Regions from separate parts of the Homo sapiens genome. Here region 1 is linked to region 2. A link means that fine-mapping ties the variant in region 2 to the expression of a gene that starts in the linked region. Tissue or cell type: blood mononuclear cells. Region 2 holds a variant in brackets; the other region holds the start of a gene. All regions are shown on one strand. Distances are from middle to middle. Region 1 holds the start of CBR4 (carbonyl reductase 4). Region 2 has its middle 28 kb from the start of CBR4.

Region 1 (9,513 bases), 27 kb after region 2:
TGTAAACTGTACTGCCTACTGAAGATTCTTGAGTGACCACATCTAATGAATATGTAATAATAATTTTTAATTCAAATATCAACTATATGCAAATAAACTCTTGCAAAACAGAAGTGGGGAAGTAATTTTCTGCACCACTGACCTGTACTTATGATACAAAAATTAATCAAGGACCTCACAAAATTTTTTTAAAGTAATTTTAAAAAAAGAAAACATTCCAAACATTTCTCTATTAGAATCAACAAGTTCAGTATTAGAATATTTATCTACATTATATATTGTAGGCCAATTAATAACAAAGGAAGAGAACTGTGAAGTACACAGAGAGAACAGACATCAGACTGAAGAAATGCATATGGATAGAGGGGTGTTTATCAGAAAGAAAAATACAGAGACACAAAAAAAGAAAAATACATGCACGAAAAAAATACCAAAACAGGGCTGGTCCGATGGTAGCGGGTTATCAGAACCTATTAACAGTAGTGTCACTAAAGTTAGTATACAACCCCCAACTGCTAAATATGAGTGGCTTTTAAAAGAAAAAAAAACACAAGCTGCTTTAGCAGCTTTGATTCGTGCCACGCACTACTGTTCATCAGGTCAAAAAGTGGTAATTTCTGAAATACCAATGAAGTGTCTGGCAGTTTAAAGTAGTCCTTCCTGTAGTAAGATTCTCAATTTACTATCTATTATTTACTTTTAGCTCAATTCTAAAAGTTTTGCATGCATAAGGAGGACTAATGGGTTTTTTAAATACACCTAAAAAAAAGAAGATTTTAGAGTTAAACAAATATACCTCAGGTTATCAGGTGACAGATACAGGCCTGTTTGCCTGCTTGTAAGTATCCAAAGTCCTTATCTGGCTGTGTTAAAAGGCAAAGGTTGACTCATTGACTAATCTCTTACATAAGAAAACGGATCCCTTAAATTTTTAAGAGTAAATGTCCAAAATGCTCTCATGTCCCCTTAGTTTATTAGCATAGTATTCTTTCCTTTTCTCACTTTCAAAACAGAAAAACTCTAAATTCTGGCTTGAAAAACCATTTCCTACATTTAAAAGAACAGGGTCACTTACTTTTATGGAGCAGCATCTCCCTTCTGTGGCCTTTTAAGGTATTACCATTTGAAAATAAAAAGCAGATGGTATACTATTATTTCCAAATTACCAAACTGAAATAAAATTTCAAGTCATTTTGCATTTTAAGTTCTACAGGCATATACTCCACAGCTTATCTGCCCTGTGGGTTAGATGAACTGAAAACTAGGGGTTACTTACATCCATTCTTAAAAACAGAGAAATTTTATCTTCCTTTAAACCTCTACACAAGATTTAACAGTAACCCATGAAACTGCTGTAGACAATATTATTTAGCCACCACTGTCTACTTTAATTCCTTGTCCATGTTTTAAAAATCAGGTTCCTGGCTGGGCACGTGGCTCACCTCTATAATCCCAGCACTTCGGGAGGATCACTTGAGCCCATGAGTTAAAGACCAGCCTAGGCCACATAGTGTGACCTCGTCTCTATTTAAAAAAAAAAAAATTCACATAAAAATCAGAATGATCCAATTTCTCTTGAAAAATCAAAATTGCTGGCAAAACTGGGACCACATTCTTGCACGGCAACAATCTACTGAATCTAAGTGGTGGCCTCCACCATTCCATATGGGCTCTGGACAATGAAGCTGGATATCATTTATCACATGGCTGGTACTGTCATTTTTCTAGTACTCAGTGGTGTCACTCATTTAACACCTGCCTGACTCCTATAGGGATGTGAATGTGTGATTCTTATTTTACTCATTAATCAATTAATTAAATCCTTTTTTCCACAGATAATATAAATTTCATTCATGTTTCACAATAAATCACAAATTCGTGGATTAAATATTTTTATGGTATGGTATTATGGGATAATCATAAATTCACAAAGGTGAAGACTCACCTACATTAACAATAGACCCTCCCTGTTGTTGAATCATAGTCCTCATGGCAGCTTTACAGGTCAGCATGGAACCCAAGAGGTTAGTATGAAGCTGAGATACCATATCTTCAGTTTTTGTTCTTACTAAAAGACCATCCCTACAAAAAGAAACAGCATATAATAGCATATAATAACAAGATAAAAACCAAAAAGGTCAAGACTAATGTAACATTTTTACTGAGAGTGCAAGAAGTGCTTCCTATCTGAGCTAGAATAGCTAGAATACCTAGAGTCCCATTTTGAACTTGGCTTGAGAAACATTAAAATAACAATTGATAAACCAGAAAGGATCCACTTGGAAGACAGGTTGCTACCCCTTCTCAGCTTGAGTGGCAAATATTCTTAACCCCTAAAAAGTAGTAACATATAGCCAAAATAGTTTGAATGGCCTGAGCAACTGCCATACTAAGCCTTGTTTAGCAAGAAAATTAATATGTTATCTAAATATTCTCTCCTAAATTCATCTTTTAAAAAATAATATCCACTCCATGATTCTATTAGTATTAAGTTCACAAACTGGCAAAACTTATCTGTGGTGACAAAACTCAGAAAACAGTTACCAACAAGGAAGTATTGAGAAGACACTACCTTCTGGAGCACTGGAAACATTCTACGGCTCAATATGGGTGATGATTACAATGTTAAAATCGACTCAACTGGACATTTATTATATGTTGTATCTCAATATAAAGGAAAATAATTTATGGATTGACAAGTTTTAAAATAGTTTTTTCTCCCAGTTAGAAGCAAAATAAACATATTAACTTATACCAATCAAAGACATATTAGGAATAAAAGTTTTAAATATATATATAAGAAACTTATTTAAATCTGTGACCAACCTGTTAATACCAGCTGCATTTACCAAGAAATTTACTCGACCTAAATGTTTCTCCAGCTCTTCAAATGTATTTTGAACATCATGTTCTTTAGCAACATCACAGCTAAATGCCAAATGATCTCCTACACAACAAAGTTAAATAAGAATTACTTATAACTCAAATTTTAAATTTACTCAATACACATTTGTTAAGCATCTATCTAAGATGGCAGGCCTGTGCTAATCTAGAACCTAAAGATTAAAAAAGTAATGTCATGAGGCCTGGCTTTCATAGAGTTGGTCTAATGAAACTGGGATGCGGGAACAAAGAGGAAATAAAGTACTACTACAGAAAGTTAATTTTAAAATTTTCTTTTTAATCAACAAAGGGGGGAGGGCTTTTTCAAGTTATAAAGGCTCTGTAAGATTCATCTAATATTTATAGCTTTAACACTGAATTCATGCTACCCAATTCGACAGTCTTCTGGGTTTTATATTCCTTTTTTGAAATTTATGTCTAATTCTGTCAGGTTTTTGTTGAATTAGTTTCTTTGGCCCTGAACGGGAACTCTTGGGTTTCTTCTTTTTAAGTGCTACGGATGCACTATGGCACATATATTATAACGACTATTATTCAAACCTGACCATCAGGAGAGATGAGACAACACAGGAAGCTATAAAAATGCTAAAACTACAAACCACGGGGGGAAAAAAACACTTTTTACTAAAAGCAACTGTTACTTACCACTTTTAAAAAATGGTTAAATGCCAAAAAAAAACTACACTTCAAAGGAAAACAAAGCATTCCCTATGTAATCTACCATTTTAATACTCTAAAATGTAGGATTGTTTTTAAAAGCTAAAACAATTCTTTATTTTCTGTCTGACCTTGATAAATATGCTTACACCAACACTACCCCATCAAGCCTTTGGAAACAGTAAGCGACCCGGGGAATTATACTTTCTAGATGAAAACCAATCACTCATGGAACACGATTCAAAGGAATGCAGGGCCCAAAAGCATCCTGTGTCTCTCTTACTCTTGGTTTTCACCCGAAGACTTGTGTCCACAACCACCTTTGAAAGCCCAACTAATGGCTTCAATCCAGTCCAGCAAACACTGATGGCTTGGGGTGACACAGTAAGGGTCACCACTCTTCCCCTCCTTTGTTAGAATGGTAAGGAATATGAGCTTCAAGAAGCATTCACTGACACTCTCCCTGACCTATAACTTACAGAATCTTTTTTCTTTTAGAGAGCCCAATAGTCTCCCAACCAGCACTGAACAGGTGATACCAAACCGATCAATAATGTTAACTTAAAAATGAACAGCCACACCTGGCGTCTATAGTCCCAGGTCCTTGGGAGACTGAGGCGAGAAGATCTCTAGAGCCAGTAAATCAGGAGTTGGGGTCCAGCACGGGCAACATAATGGGAAGCCCTCTCAAAAAAAAAAAAAAAAAACCAGATACACAAAAACAGTAAGAGCCACAAGACGCACCCCTAGGCCTCTATTCTCCCCATGCCTCCCTGATAGTAAATGAAGTATAATTTTGTCCATTCTGGTGATTAAACAAATAGCATCTTCGGATCTAACGTCCTATTTCTCCCTAAACTCAATGAAGAGTTATATTCACAAAATGACTAATCCATTCATAATAAGCCGGAAATAAAAAACCCTGAAGTTTAAATGCAATAAAAAAGAATTTGGCAGAACAAAGTTCAATTGTCCATTTGCAAAACTCACCAAAACAATTTAATAACATTAAAGCAAACCAGGTATATCTCAAAACTGGCTGGTACTCAAAAGGGTTTCTCTATCAAACACTGCTTTGTGCATTCGCGCAGGGCCAAGGCACGGCCCTTGGGCAAAACTGAAGGGAGCCGTTGGTACCTGCACTCCCACCTTTCCTGCCTGAACTCCTTTCGACCCAGCCCTGTCTCCGGGGGCCGAGAACTCGCCCTTTTCCCTACATTAAAAGTAAACTGTTACGTGGCTCTCTCCCACAACAGGGAAGCTCCTCAGCGTTAGCACTAGCCGCAGGGCGGAGGGTGCGTATAGCGGGGCCTCAAAAGACTACGAGGTCTCAAAGAACACCCCAAGTGTTCAGCCCTCGGCGGCAAGCTGCGTGGCCGGCATTCTGCGAGGCATAGGGAGATCGCGGGTTTCTGCACGAGACGCATTCTACCCTTGGAACGGGAGAGCGCCTGCACGCGGCTACATCGAGTAACCCTAGAGCCCTAAAGGCCAGACCCGCTCTTTTTACAAAGGAGATTTTCTTTAGGCGCCTGGACCGCGGCCATACAACTGGACAACTCCAGTTTGGTACCTACCGCCGAGGTCACCGGCGGCGGCTTTGGCCCCTTCCAGGTTTCTGGCAATGACCGCCAGTCGGTAGCCTTTCCGGGCCATTAACTGGGCCACAGCTCTGCCAATGCCTCGGGAGCCTCCAAAAACAGCACACACTTTGTCCATCTCGGAGTCACAAACTCGGAGGAAAGAGGGTAGGGAGTGGGAGCCCCTCTCCAGGTTCCCTCAGGCTTTTAAACAACCGCGGTTCCAAAAAAAAAAAAAAGAAAAAAAAAGGCAAACCGCAAAAAAAAATAACGCCGCTCGACACCTCCTGCAGCCGCACAATAGTAATGCAAGACGCCGTGAAAAGGAGGAAGAGCTCGACGTCGCCGCGTCGACGTCATCACGCACGGACTCTTCCGCGCCACACCTAACAAATACGCCGACGAGAGCTCCCCGCCGGCGGAAGAATGGCCTGGAGAGGGCCTCGATGCTTGCTGGGACCTGTAGTCTTGACGCATGAGAGCAACTGGCGCAGGCGCGCTGCTCGGTGGGGAATGTACTTGTGGCACTGAGGGGGATCCTCTGTCCCCGCTGGGTCATATCAGTCGGGATTCGAGCCCCGGTGACCAATCGACCCGGTTTGTTCGGAACTGACAGGGTTGTCAAGACGCTGGGCTTTCCCTGGCAAACCAAGACGACCTGATCACGTAGTTAGAACCCAGAGAAAGCATTACTGGGCGTGAGCCGGTCGGGGCTCCGGTATTTGCCCTTCGCCCAGGTGTTGTTTTGGCTACAGACTTGATGTCCTACCTGTTGAAGAAGTCCCCAAGAATCGCACCCACACCAAAACCTACCCTACCTGTTCCTCCCCCAGGTTGCTGTAGAAATGGACCTCTACCCGCCCAGATGTTACCATTCATCGCGAAGGGTGTCGTGAAGATGAATGCCCTGTCGAACATCATCCAGCAGGAGGTCAAGGAATTTTAACTGAATGATTGAATAGTCTTGCAAGATCTATGAAACAAGCTTCGGCTGCTGTAGAGAAACAAAAATGGGTTCCTGCAATTCTAAATAAGATGTACTGGGTGCTCTGAGAGTTAATAAGCTAAAAAATTCAATGTTTGTTACAATTATAGTGTAAACAGAAAGCATTTCTGATACAATATTATTTTACTAGATTCAGAAAAGTATGAGCCATGGTCCCTACCACTAAAAAAACTACAACCCAGAACTACAGGACTAATACACATGAAACACTAGGAGGTATCCAAAATCATACTTAGTAAAATGCAAAATTATATTAACACAAGAGCTCCGAGAAAATGGAGATCAGTGAAGAATGAAGGGGTGCATGGAAAAGCTGGATTTGAGGGCTGGATGAGGTTTGAAAAAAGGAAAACAAGAGCAAAAAGTCTATAAATAAGCAAGTTGAGCATTAATTTAAATTTGTTATTCCTATTCCATTTAGATCCAAAAAAAGATTTGAAATGGTTTGCAAAAATACATGAGTATTTGAATTTAAAAGGCAAAGAGGACCACTGCCCCTTCTCCCACAAGGCCAGAACAATAAATTAGGTCAGTGGAAAAAATACGAATAAAGTCATGCTATAAGAATCTATTTAGTATTAAAGAAGAGATTCATAAACTTAGAGTTTCCTGCCAGCGAAAGCAACAAAGGAAATATAATTACAAGTGGTAATTTCTGTAAGAAATCAGCCTCCTGGTTATGCAGCAGAGAAGCCTGAGCAAAACTCCCTCCTCATAGGTCCTCCTAAATGGCACACTAAGCATTGTAGTAGACAGTGAGCTTCATGAAAAGAAAAAGAGATTGTAAGGCTGTTTTCATAGCATCTATTAGACTTTATTAAAAGCAAATACAATAGGAAGTTAAACAATATAAGCAAACAGTCACACATAAAAATTGTGTCTTTGAAACAATATATGTTTGAAACAATGAGGAAACAAGCCTGAGGAAATTTGGGATGGTGCTATATTATAGTCAGCTTTAAAGTCAGGTGCCAAGCATTAAACAGGCCTTTAACTGCAGAAGTAATAAGATAAGAGCTGCATTTAAGAACTATTAGCAGGCCAGGCGTGGTGGCTCATGCCTGTAATCCCAGCACTTTGGGAGGCTGAGACAGGAGGATTGCTTGAGTCTAGAAGTTCAAAACCAACCCAGGAAACACAGCAAGACCCCCACCCCCCCGACCCCCATCTCTACAGAAAATACAAAAAAAAATTAGCTGGACATGGTGGCCTACCTGTGGTCCCAGCTACTCGGGAGGCTGAGTTGGGAGGATCATGTAAGTCCAGGAGGTCAAGGCTGCAGTGAGCCATGATTGCACCACTGCAGTCCAGCCTGCATGACACAGCAGGACCCTGTCTCAAAATAACAGTGTTCTAAAAAACAAACAAACAGTTTCCCAGTGATGTAAAAATGGGTCAGATCAAATTTGTCTATTCACTTTCCTACTATACACTATGCAATCTTGGAAAGAAAAAACTGTTTTACATAAATTACCAATATAAGGGTCAGCCTAAATGCCAACTGTATTCCTGCACCTTAGGTCAAACCAGAGAGGTTTATCTTTTGAACAGTTCTCTCCATTTGCTAGGAAAATGATTATTTTTTTTTCTACACATTGTTATTTTAGCAAAAAAAAATGGTTTTTAGATCTATGCCATCTATCATGAAGATCACTAACACATGATATGAGGTGACATTCAGAATTCTGAAAACCTTCCAACTTTTCTCACTGTATATATACTGTAAATGGATAAGCTGGGCTTTTTATTCAACACATACCTCAGGTTAAACCTCAAGGTTATTATTTATTTTTTTTCCCTCTTAATACAATATCACCACTATCCCGGGTGAGAATACATCTATCACAGCACATCACCCATTAGCTGAGAAGGTTACAGCAGGGGAAGTTTCTCTGTAAGCCCCTGATAGTGAAGTGAGGATCTGTAAATTAAACTGGGTCTCCCCTACCCAGCAGGACATTGAAGGAAGCCATTAGAATGACCCACCTTTAGTCTTTCCTTCTCACTAAACATGCCACTTTTGTGGTAATATTTTAACCATATGTTATACTTTAACTTAAATCCACATAGGATATATTTTCTCTTGGCTCCCACAATCGAAGGAGAAAATTCCTTATGTATAAGGACTGTTATACAAATTTTTAAATATGCATACCTAGTATTACTTTTCTGATTACAAAAGGAATACCATTTAATTGCTAACAGTTAGAAAACATAAACTTTTTAAAGTAAATAAAAACTCATTGAAAGCATTGTACACTTTAAGCGTGTGAATTGTATCGTATGCAAATTATATCCCAATGGAACTGTTATTGAAAAAGATGTAATTTAAAGCCTACTGCCCTGTTATACGAAATTTGAATCTGCAACTAATTATAAGGGGGTTGTACCTTTCATGAATATTTTTTTCATACGTCAAGATTTATAATGCCCAAGATTCCAAATATGCAGGAAAATTTATTTATAAGAAATTTATGAATTATGATTGAATATTCATTGAGAATCCTCTTTACAAATGCACCATACTAAGCACATCCAGCTTATCAGATCCATAATTGAAGCATAACCCTTCCTGCCAGCAAGCAGTCTCCCAGGATTCTTCAGGCAGTGATGATAATCTGCACGACCCAAATTGCATGTGGCCAGCTAACTTCTCCATACAGACCATGCTCTTCTTTCAAGAAGAAAGATTAGAAAGCTGCCTTAGTGTGGCTGCACAGATATAACTTTTATGATTAAAAAGCATGTTGATTTCCTCATTGGCATTCTTGTATCCAATCTGCTGGGTAATCTAAATTGTAAGGAATGTACTTTTTATCACTTACAAAAGTTTATTTCATTTTGATTGGGAACAAAAAATGTGGCCCATGAGCTTGTTATTTTGTTGAATTGGCGTTTATGCCTCTGAGGCTGCCCACCGAGACCTAAACCTGGCACTCAGTTGCCTAAGGCAGAAGCATGGAGTTTATTCCTTCCCTCTCTCAACATCCCACATCCAATCAGTCACAAAGTCCTGCTGATTCTACTCCCTAAATACCATTCCAACTTCTACACATCCATGCTTCTCCAAACACTGTCTTCTCAACCTCGAATGCTCCCACTGCTTTCCCTGGTAACATCTGATTTATCATTCAAAATGTGGCTCAAACATCTCTTGCAATGGAAGCTTCTCCTGACCCAAAGGAGGACATGCTGATGTCCTTCTTTACCCGTCCTCTTACCTTGTATGTGTCTTCAAGTCTGTATTTCATGGAGTTACTGTGACGTCAGAATCCACATAATTTTAGGAAGATAGTGAATAGATTCTCAAGGATCTGTGAACCTACCAAGCTGAATACAAAATCTCATGTGCTTTTTAGATGAGTA
Region 2 (9,513 bases):
TGATTTTCTACTTACTGCTCCAACTAGTCCTTCTTAGACTCCTTTGCAGGCTCATCTATCTCTAACCCGTCAGTAAATGCTGCTGGTGTTCCTCAAGGTTCCATCCTATGCCCACACATAGAACAGTGCCTGACAATAGTAAATACTGAGTATTTGCAATTATCATCTAAACGCTCACTCTAAACTCTCTACCTAAGCAATCCCTTCCATTCCTTATTGCTCAAAACTTTAGTAACTGTTTCTACACAGATGATATATTTCTTGCCCGGATTTCCCCTCTGAGTTTCTGACCCATACATACTTGATGTCTCCTATCCTATCTCCAAAGCACCTGAAATCAGCATGTTTAAAATTAAACTCATGATCTCCCTGCCGAATACCAACAAACCTGCTCTTATGCAGTGTTTTTTGCGAATGGCGCCACCACTCATCCAGATTTATACATCAGAAACACATTTCCTAGATTCAGTTCATCACAAAGTATTGTTGATTTCCTAAATCTCATTTGACCACTTGTCTCCATTTCTATTCTCACTATCCTAGACTCAATTTTCCATTACCTCTCACATGAGGTAATGGGTACTACAAACATGGGTATTGCTGCACTGTTTGAGCCCCTTTCAACCTTTTCTCCATACTATAGCCAGAATCATCTTTCCTAATACATCATGTATCCTCCTACTTGAAATCTTTCAATACTTCTTAGGATAAAGTTCAAAACCCTTAACATGGCCTCCAAAGATCTGCATCATCTAGACCTACAGCCTCATCTCATACCCATGTTCTCCTCCTCTGCATTCCATGGCTGTTCAATTCCTGACTCACAATGTTCTTTGTCACCAAAAGATCTTTACCCATGCTGTTCCTTCTGAATGAAAGGCTTTACAGTCAGCCCTCTGTGTCTGTGTGATCACTTCCTTGGAGTCAACTAACTGCAGATCAAAAATATTTGGGGGAGGGGAGTGGCAAGATGGCTGACTAGAAGCAGCTAGTGTGTGCTGCTCTCACAGAAGGGAGACAGAGTGGCCAGTAAACACTAGCTCTTTAACTAAACAGTCCAAGAGGACATGTTGGGATTCATAAAGGAAGCAATGTAGTCAACATAAAACAGAAAAAAGACAGGACAGCTGCCCACCTGGGATTGGCACAGTGCCAAGTGAGGCTCCCCCCTGCAGGAAAATGGTGAATAAGAGCCCCAGGAAACCATGTTTCTGCCATGAACCTTTGCAATTTCAGGCTCTGGAGACCTCCCCTGACCCCCTTCCCCTGTGGCCTCCAGGCTGACACAGAAAGCGTGTGGAGTGTGCCACTCAGGCACAAATGGAGGGCCAAGGGTCTTGGAACCGTGAGCACTCCTGCACCAGCAGCTGTAGCTTTGCCAACAAAGGAGGCCAGGTTCTCACGCATACCCCCAGGAGAGAGGCTGCATCCACAGTACTGAGAAGCAGACGAACTACAGGCCTTGCCCCAACTACACCTCCCTAGGCAAAGCCCACTGGCCTGGGATCCCAATGCAGCCACCCCACCCCTGCCTGAGCTCTCAGGCTGGTAGCAGCTCTGCAATTCCCTGGAACAGAGCTCCCAGGAGTAAAAGACAGGCCTGCCATTTTTGCTGCTGCACAGCCCCCACCCCAACTGCTATCAGAATCAGGAGGGAGCAAAGAGGTTAGGGACTATCTTGAGCCTCCAGCACAGCATAGCATGCCTTGCAGAAAAAGAGGCCACACTATTTTCCACGCAGGTCCCTCCTCCTGTTACTCCTCCTTGGGCAGGGCCTTCAGACTTGCCCCCAACAAGCCCCCCTCCCTGCTCCCACACCCCAAGCACAGTCACCCCACCCCCACTGAGCTCTCAGCTGGTAGTAGCTCTGCACTTCCCTAGGATGGAGTTCCCAGTGGCAGCAGGCAGGCCCGCCATTTTTTGCCACTACTGCAGCCCCTGACCCTACTGCCCTCTGGCTTGGAATGGAAAGAAGAGCTTAAGGACTATCACAGGCCCCCAGCACAGCACAGCTCCTTTATAGAAAAGCAACCAGACTGTTTTCCACACAGGTCCCTGTCCATGTGCTACTCCTTACTACACAGGGCCTCCTGGACTGGGCCCCCAGCACAGCCACCCAGCCCCCGCCTGATCAGTCAGTGGCAGCTCTGTGTTTGCCTGGTGGGGAAATCCCAGAGACAACCCTCTGCCATTGCGGGGCTTCAGCGGTACGGCCCTAGCTGCCCTTGGGCTGCAGAACGAACAAAGAGCCTGGTTGCTTCACTGGTACCTCCAGCATGTCGCAGCCACCACAGGGAGAGGAACCAGTCTCTCTTCCCTATGAGCCCCCACCGCCTACTCTTCACCATGTAGGGCCTCTGGCTTTGGCCCCCAGAGCAGCTGCCCCACCCCCAGCTGAATATTCCCATTCGCAGTGGCTCTGCATTTCCCAGGGGCGGAGCTCCCACAGGCAACTGACAGCTCCTCTGCCACTGCCACTGCAATGGTACTGCCCTTGCTAACTACCCTCAGACTGGGGAAGAAAGAAAGACCCTGAGTGCCTTACTCTCACCTCCAGCATGCAGCAGCTGCCCTATGAAGAGGCTAGTCTGTCTTCCCTGTGAGCCCCCAATTCCCCTGCTCTTCACCAGGCAGGGCCCCCCCAGCTTGGGCCCACAACACACTGGGATGATTATTCTGATGGACAATGGCTATGTATATCCCTGGGGTGCAACCAAAAGAGACACATGAAAAGCCCTCTACCACTGACACTGCCAAGGTCCCCCTCTCTGCTACCCCCAAGACGGAAAGAGAACAAAAAGTCTGGCTTGCCCCAGGGCTGCAGTGCCAAGCCTGGGAGTACCAAGCTGAGGTCTGCAGCACTCAAGTGGGAGAGGAGCCCACACCCTCCTCTCCCACTTGAGAGGAGGCTCACTTGGAGCACTGAGAAGGTACATGACTGCAAATGGAAGGAAATACAAAGGAGCCACAGGGCTGAGCAAGAGCCTACCTACTGGCCAGTATGCTTAAACACATCACAGCCCAAACTTCAACACCAAAAATACTTTGCTAATATACCGCCTATGAAAACACAGACAAGAATTCAGCCACAAATAGACCAGGTGTGGTGGCTCACGCCTGTAATCCCAGCACTTTGGGAGACAGAGGCAGGCAGATCACTCAAGGTCAGGAGTTCAAGACCAGCCTGGCCACCATGGTGAAACCCTGTCTCTACTAAAAATGCAAAAATTAGCCAGGTGTGGTGGCACATGCCTGTAATCCCAGCTACTCGGGAGGCTGAGGCAGAAGAATCACTTGAACCTGGAAGATGGAGGTTGTGGTAAACTGAGATCATGCCACCACACTCCAGCCTAAGCAACAGAGCAAGACTCTATCTCAAAAAAAGAAAGAAAAAAGAATTCAACAGAGTTGGCTCTCTGAAAACATCCAGAAATGAAGGCAAGTGACTACAGTCAAGTTACACCATGATTAAAGGAACATTAGCGCCCACACAGATGAGAAACAGCCAGTGCAATAACTCTGGCAACTCTAAAAGCCAAAGAGTCTCCTTATTTACAAATGACCACACTAGCTCCCCAACACTGATTCTTAACCAGAAGGAAATGGCTGAAATGACAGACACAGAATTCAGAATCTAGATGGCAATTAAGATTATCGAGATTCAGGAGACAACTGAAACCCATTCCAAGGAATCTAAGGAATCCAGTAGAACAATTCAAAAGATAAAAATATGAAAATAGCCATTTTAAGAAAGAACCAGGCCAGGCGTGGTGGCTCGCACCTGTAATCCCAGCACTTTGGGAGGCCGAGGTGGATGGATTGCTTGAGGTCAGGAGTTCAAGACCAGCCTGGCCAACATGGTGAAACCCAGTCTCTACTAAAAATGCAAAAATTACCAGGCTTGGTGGTGCATGCCTGTAATCCCAGCTACTCGGGAGGTTGAGGCAGGAAAATTGCTTGAACCCAGGAGGCAGAGGTAGCAGTGAGCCGAGATCGCATCACTGCACTCCTAGGCAACAGAGTGAATGAGACTCAGTCTCAAAAAAATAAAATAAAAATAAAGAAAAGAAAGAACCAAACTGAGCTGATAGACCTGAAAACCTGCCTATAAGAATTTCATAACAATCAGAAGTATTAATAGCAGAACAGATCAAGCTGGGGAATGAATCTCAGAGCTCAAAGAACAGTTCTTCAAATTAACTCAGTCAGATAATAAAGAGAATTTTTTTAAATGAACAAAACCTCCAAGAAATATGGAATTATGTAAAGATGCCAAATCTATGACTCATTAGCATCCCTGAAAGAGAAGGGTAGGTCATATACAAAGGAAACTCCATCAGGCTAACAACAGAACTTTCAGCAGAAACACTACAAGCCAGAAGAGATTTGGGGCTTATATTCAGCATCCTTAAAGAAAAGAAATTCCAACCAAGAATTTCATATGCAGCCAAACTAAGCTTCATAAGTGAAGGAAAAATTAAATCCTTTTCAGACAAGCAAATGCTAAGGGCATTTGTTACCACCAGGTCTGCCTTACAAGAGGTCCATAAGACAGTACTAAATATGAAAATGAAAGACCATTACTGATCACCACAAAAACACACTCAAGTACACACTCTATTAACACTATAAAGCAAATATAATAATACAATCAAGTCTACATAACAATCAGCTAATAACATGATGACAGGATAAATTCCACACATAACAATATTAATCTTGAATGTAAACAGGTTAAATGCACCTCTTAAAAAGCACAGCATGGAAAACGGGATAAAGAAGCAAGACCCAACTGTATGCTGTCTTCAAGAGACCATCTCACATAGAAGGACACTCACATGCTCAAAGTTAAGGGATGGAAGAAATCTATCAAGCAAATGGAAAACAAAAAGGAGCAGGGGTTGCTATTCTTATTCCAGACAAAACCAACTTTAAACCAACAATGATCAAAAAGGACAAAGAAGGGCATCACATAATGATAAAAAGGTTCAATTCAACAAGACTTAACTATCCTAAATATATATATATGCAGTCAACATTGGAGCACCCAGATTCATAAAACAAGTTCATAGAGACTTACAAAGAGATGTAGATAACCATAAACTAATAGTAGGAGACTTCAACATCCCACTGAAAGTACTGGGCAGATCACTGAGGCAGAATACTAACAAAGATATTCAGGATCTAAACTTGGTACTTGACCAAATGAACCTAACAAACATCTACAGAACACTCCACTCAAAAACAACAGAATATACGTTCTTCTCATCTGCACAAGGAACATACTCTAAAACTGACTACACACTGGGCCATAAAGCAATTCTCAACAAATTCAAAAAACCAAAATCATACCAACCTCACTCTCATACCACAGCACAGTAAAAACAG[A/C]AATCAATACTGACAAGATCTCTCAAAACATACAATTAAATGGACATTAAACAATCTACTCCTGAATGACTTTTGGGTAAACAATGAAATTCAGGCAGAAATCAAGAAATTATCTGAAACTAATTAAAACAAAGATGCAACATATGAAAATCTCTGGGACACAGCTAAAGTAGTGTCAAAAGCAAAGTTCACAGCACTAAATGCCCACATACATCAAAAAGTTAGAAAGATCTCAAATTAACAACCTAACATCACACCTAGGGAACCTGAAAAACAAGAACAAACCAACTCCAAAGCTAGCGGAAGAACAGAACCAAAATCAGAGCTGAACTGAATGAAATAGATGAGAAAAACCATACAAAAGATTAACAAAACCAAAAGTTGGTTCTTTAAAAGAATAAATAAGATTGATAGACTGCTAGCTATACTAATTTTTTTAAAAAGGGACAAGATCCAAAGAAACACAATCAGAAATGACAAAGGGGACATTACCACCAACCCCATAGAAATTTTTTTTAATCCTCAGAGACCATTACAAACACCTCTATGCACATAAACTAGAAAACCTAGAAGAAATGGATAAATTCTTAAACATATTATCTCCCAAGATTGAACCAGGATGAAATTGACACCCCGAACAGACAAATAACAAACAGTGAGTAAATCAGTAATAAAAATCCTACCAGCTAGAAAAAGCCCTGGACAAGAAAGATTCACAGCTGAATTCTACGAGATGTAAAAAGAACTGGTACCAATTCTACTGAAACTATTCCAAAAAGTCAAGGAGGGACTCCTTCCTAACTCATTCTGTGAGGCAAACATCATTCTGACACCAAAACCTGGCACAGACATAATGAAAAAAAAGAAAACTTTAGGCCAGTATCTCTGATGAACATAGATGCAAAAATCCTCAACAAAATACCGGCAAAACAAATCCAGCAGCACATGAAAAAGCTAATCCACCATGATCAAGTATGCTTTATTCCTGGGATGCAAGGTTAATTCAACATAGGCAAATCAATAAATGTGATTATCACATGAACAGAACTAAAAACAAAAACTACATAATCTTCACAAGAGACAGAGAAAAGGCTTTAGGTAAAATTCAACATCTCTTCATCTTAAAAACCCTCAACAAACTAAGCATTAAAGGTACATACCTCAAAATAATAAAAGCCATCTAAACAAACCCATAACCAATATCATACTGAACAGGTAAAAGCTGGAAGCATTCCCTTTGAGAACTGCAACAAGACAAGGATGCCCACTCTCACCACTCCTATTCAACATAATATTATAAGTCCTAGCCAGAGCAATCAGGCAAGAGAAAGAAATAAAGTGCATTCAAATAGGAAGAGGGGAAGTAAAATGATCTCTCTTTACAGATGATGTAATGCTATACTAGAAAACCCTATCGTCTATGCCCAAAGGCTCCTAGATCTGATAAACATCTTCTGGAAAGTTTCAGGATACAAAATCAATGTACAAAAATCAGTAGTATTTATCTATACAAATAATATCCAAGCTGAAAGCCAAATAAAGAAGGCAATTCCATTCACAATAGCCACACAAATAAAATACTTAGCAATACAGCTAACCAGAGAGGTAAAGCAATTCTACAATGAGAATTATAACACACTGCTGAAAAAATCAGAAGCAACACAAACAAATGAAAAAAAAATATTCTATGCTCATGGATAGGAAGAATCAATATTGTTAAAATGGCCACAATGCCCAAAGCAATTTACAGATTCAATGCTATTCCTATCACACTACCAATGACATTTTTAACATAATTACAAAAAACCATTCTAAAATTCATTTGGAACCAAAAAAGAGCCAAAGAGTCATAGCAACAGCAATCCTAAGCAAAAAGAACAAAGCTGGAGGCATCACACTACTCAACTTCAAAATATACTAAAAGGCTACAGTAACTAAAACAGCATTGTACTGGCACAAAAACAGACACACAGACCAATGGAATAGGTTAGAGAATCCAGAAATAAAGCTGCACACCTAAAACTATCAAATCTTCAACAAAGTCGACAAAAACAAGCAATGGGGAAAGGACTTCCTATTCAATAAATGGTGCTGGGATAACTGGCTAGACATATGCAGAAAATTGAAACTGAACCCCTGCCTTTCACCATACACAAAAATCAACTCAGGACGCATTAAAGACTTAAATGTAAAACCTAAAGCTACAAAAACCCTAGAAGAAAACCTAAGAAATACCATTCTGGACATGGGCCCAGGTAAAAACTTGATGAAGATTCCAAAAGCAAATGCAAGAAAAACTGACAAGTGGAACATAATTAAAGAGTTTCTGCATAGCAAAAGAAACTATCAACAGAGTAAACAGACAACCTACAAAATGGGAGAATATATTTGCAAACTATGCATCCAACAAAGGTCTAACATCCAGAATCTATCAGGAACTCAAATGAACAAGCAAAAAATGACAACATTAAAAAATGGGCAAGGATGTGAACAGACATTTCTCAAAAGAAGACATACGTGCAGCCAACAAGCATACGAAAAAATGCTCACTATCACTAAACACTAAGGAAATGCAAATCAAAACCAACATGAGATACCATCTCACGCCACTCAGATTGGCTATTATTAAAAAAGCTAAAAAACAACAGATGCTGGTGGTTGTGGAGAAAAGAGAACGTTTATACACTGCTGGTGGAATATAAATTAGTTCAGCCACTGTGGAAAACAGTCTGGAGATTTCTCAAAGAACTTAAAATGGAACTACCATTTGATTCAGCAATCCCATTACTGCATATATTCCCAAAGGAATATAAATTATTCTACCATGAAGACTCATGCCCTCATTGCGGCACTGTTCACAACAGCAAAGACATGGAACCAACCTAGATCCCCATCAATAGTGGACTGGATAAAGAAAATGTGGTACATATGCACCATGGAATACAACACAGCTACAAAAAAAAATTAGATTATGAGATCATGACCTTTGCAGCAACATGAATGGAGCTGGAGGCCATTATCCTAAGTATCCTAATACCACATGCAAAAATGTGGCATTTGGTTTTCTGTTCCTGCATTAATTCATTTAGAATAAGTGGGAGCTAAACCCTGAGTATACATGGACACAAAAAAGGGAACAATACACACTGGGGCCTACTTGAAAGTGGAGGGTGGGAGGATGGAGAAGATTGAAAAACTACCTATCAGGTATTATGCTGATGACCTGGGTGACAAAATTATCTGTACACCAAACCCCTGTGACATGTAATTTACCCATATAACAAACCTACATATGTACCCCCTAAATCTAAAATAAAGTTGGAAAGGAAAAAAAAGAAAATATCCGGGGGGGGAACAATAAAAATAAGAACAATTAAAAATAATGCAAATAAAAAACAATATAACAGCTATTTTCATTGCATTAGATATTGTAAGTAATCTAGAGATGATGTAAAGTATATGGGAGGATATGCATAAGCTATATGCAAATACTACACCATTTTATGTAAGGGACTTGAGCATCCACAGATTTTGGTATTCTCAGAGGATCCTGGAACCAATCCCCAAAGATACTGAGGGCCAACTGTACTCTAACTTTAGTTCAACAATCCTTGCCTCAGAGAAGCCATTCCTGACCTTCTAGAATAGGTCAAATTCCCCTAATTATTTAATAGCAATAAGAGCTTCTCATTTTTATAATGCATATTTTGGTTGCAATTTTATATGTGTGTGATTAAGTCTGCTTGACCCCACCATACTGTATTACTCTGTGAGCTCCAGAAACTTCGAGTTCGGTTTTTTGTTGTTTTTTTGTCACCATTCTACCTCCTATTACTAGCAGTGTTACATATGTAGTATGAATAAATAAATATTTCGTGAATGAATGAACAATCTGAATACTTAAGAATTTTTCCTGGCCGGGCATGGTGGCTCACGCCTGTAATCCAGCACTTTCAGAGGCCAAGGCAGGAGGACCACTTGAGGCCAGGAGTTCAAGACCAGCCTGGGTGACACAGTGAGACCTTGTCTCTACAAAAAAATATAAAAAATTAGTCACGCAGGGTTAATACCTGTTGTCTCAGCCACTTGGGAGGCTAAGGCAGGAAAATCATTGGAGCCCAGGAG

The links. PIP is the estimated chance that this variant, and not a neighbour inherited with it, causes the effect.
Region 1: CBR4 starts here. The variant in region 2 is fine-mapped to the expression of CBR4 in blood mononuclear cells (TOPMed, PIP 0.93).

What each region holds. Positions count from the first base shown.
Region 1 is chr4:169,004,810-169,014,322 of GRCh38, forward strand. It overlaps CBR4 (carbonyl reductase 4), which reads right to left and starts at 5,446. Exons shown (of 5, transcript NM_032783.5): 1 at 5,139-5,446; 2 at 2,827-2,947; 3 at 1,946-2,082. The coding sequence starts at 5,280. It overlaps CBR4-DT (CBR4 divergent transcript), which reads left to right and starts at 5,620. Exons shown (of 2, transcript NR_185919.1): 1 at 5,620-5,647; 2 at 5,975-6,251. It also overlaps the pseudogene RNY4P17. RefSeq lists enhancers at 4,447-5,396, 5,496-5,825.
Region 2 is chr4:168,977,359-168,986,871 of GRCh38, forward strand. It overlaps a transcript of CBR4 not described here. Among named protein-coding and RNA genes, the nearest start is that of CBR4, 28 kb to the right of the region's middle. The variant A/C (reference allele first, on the strand shown) is at 5,389.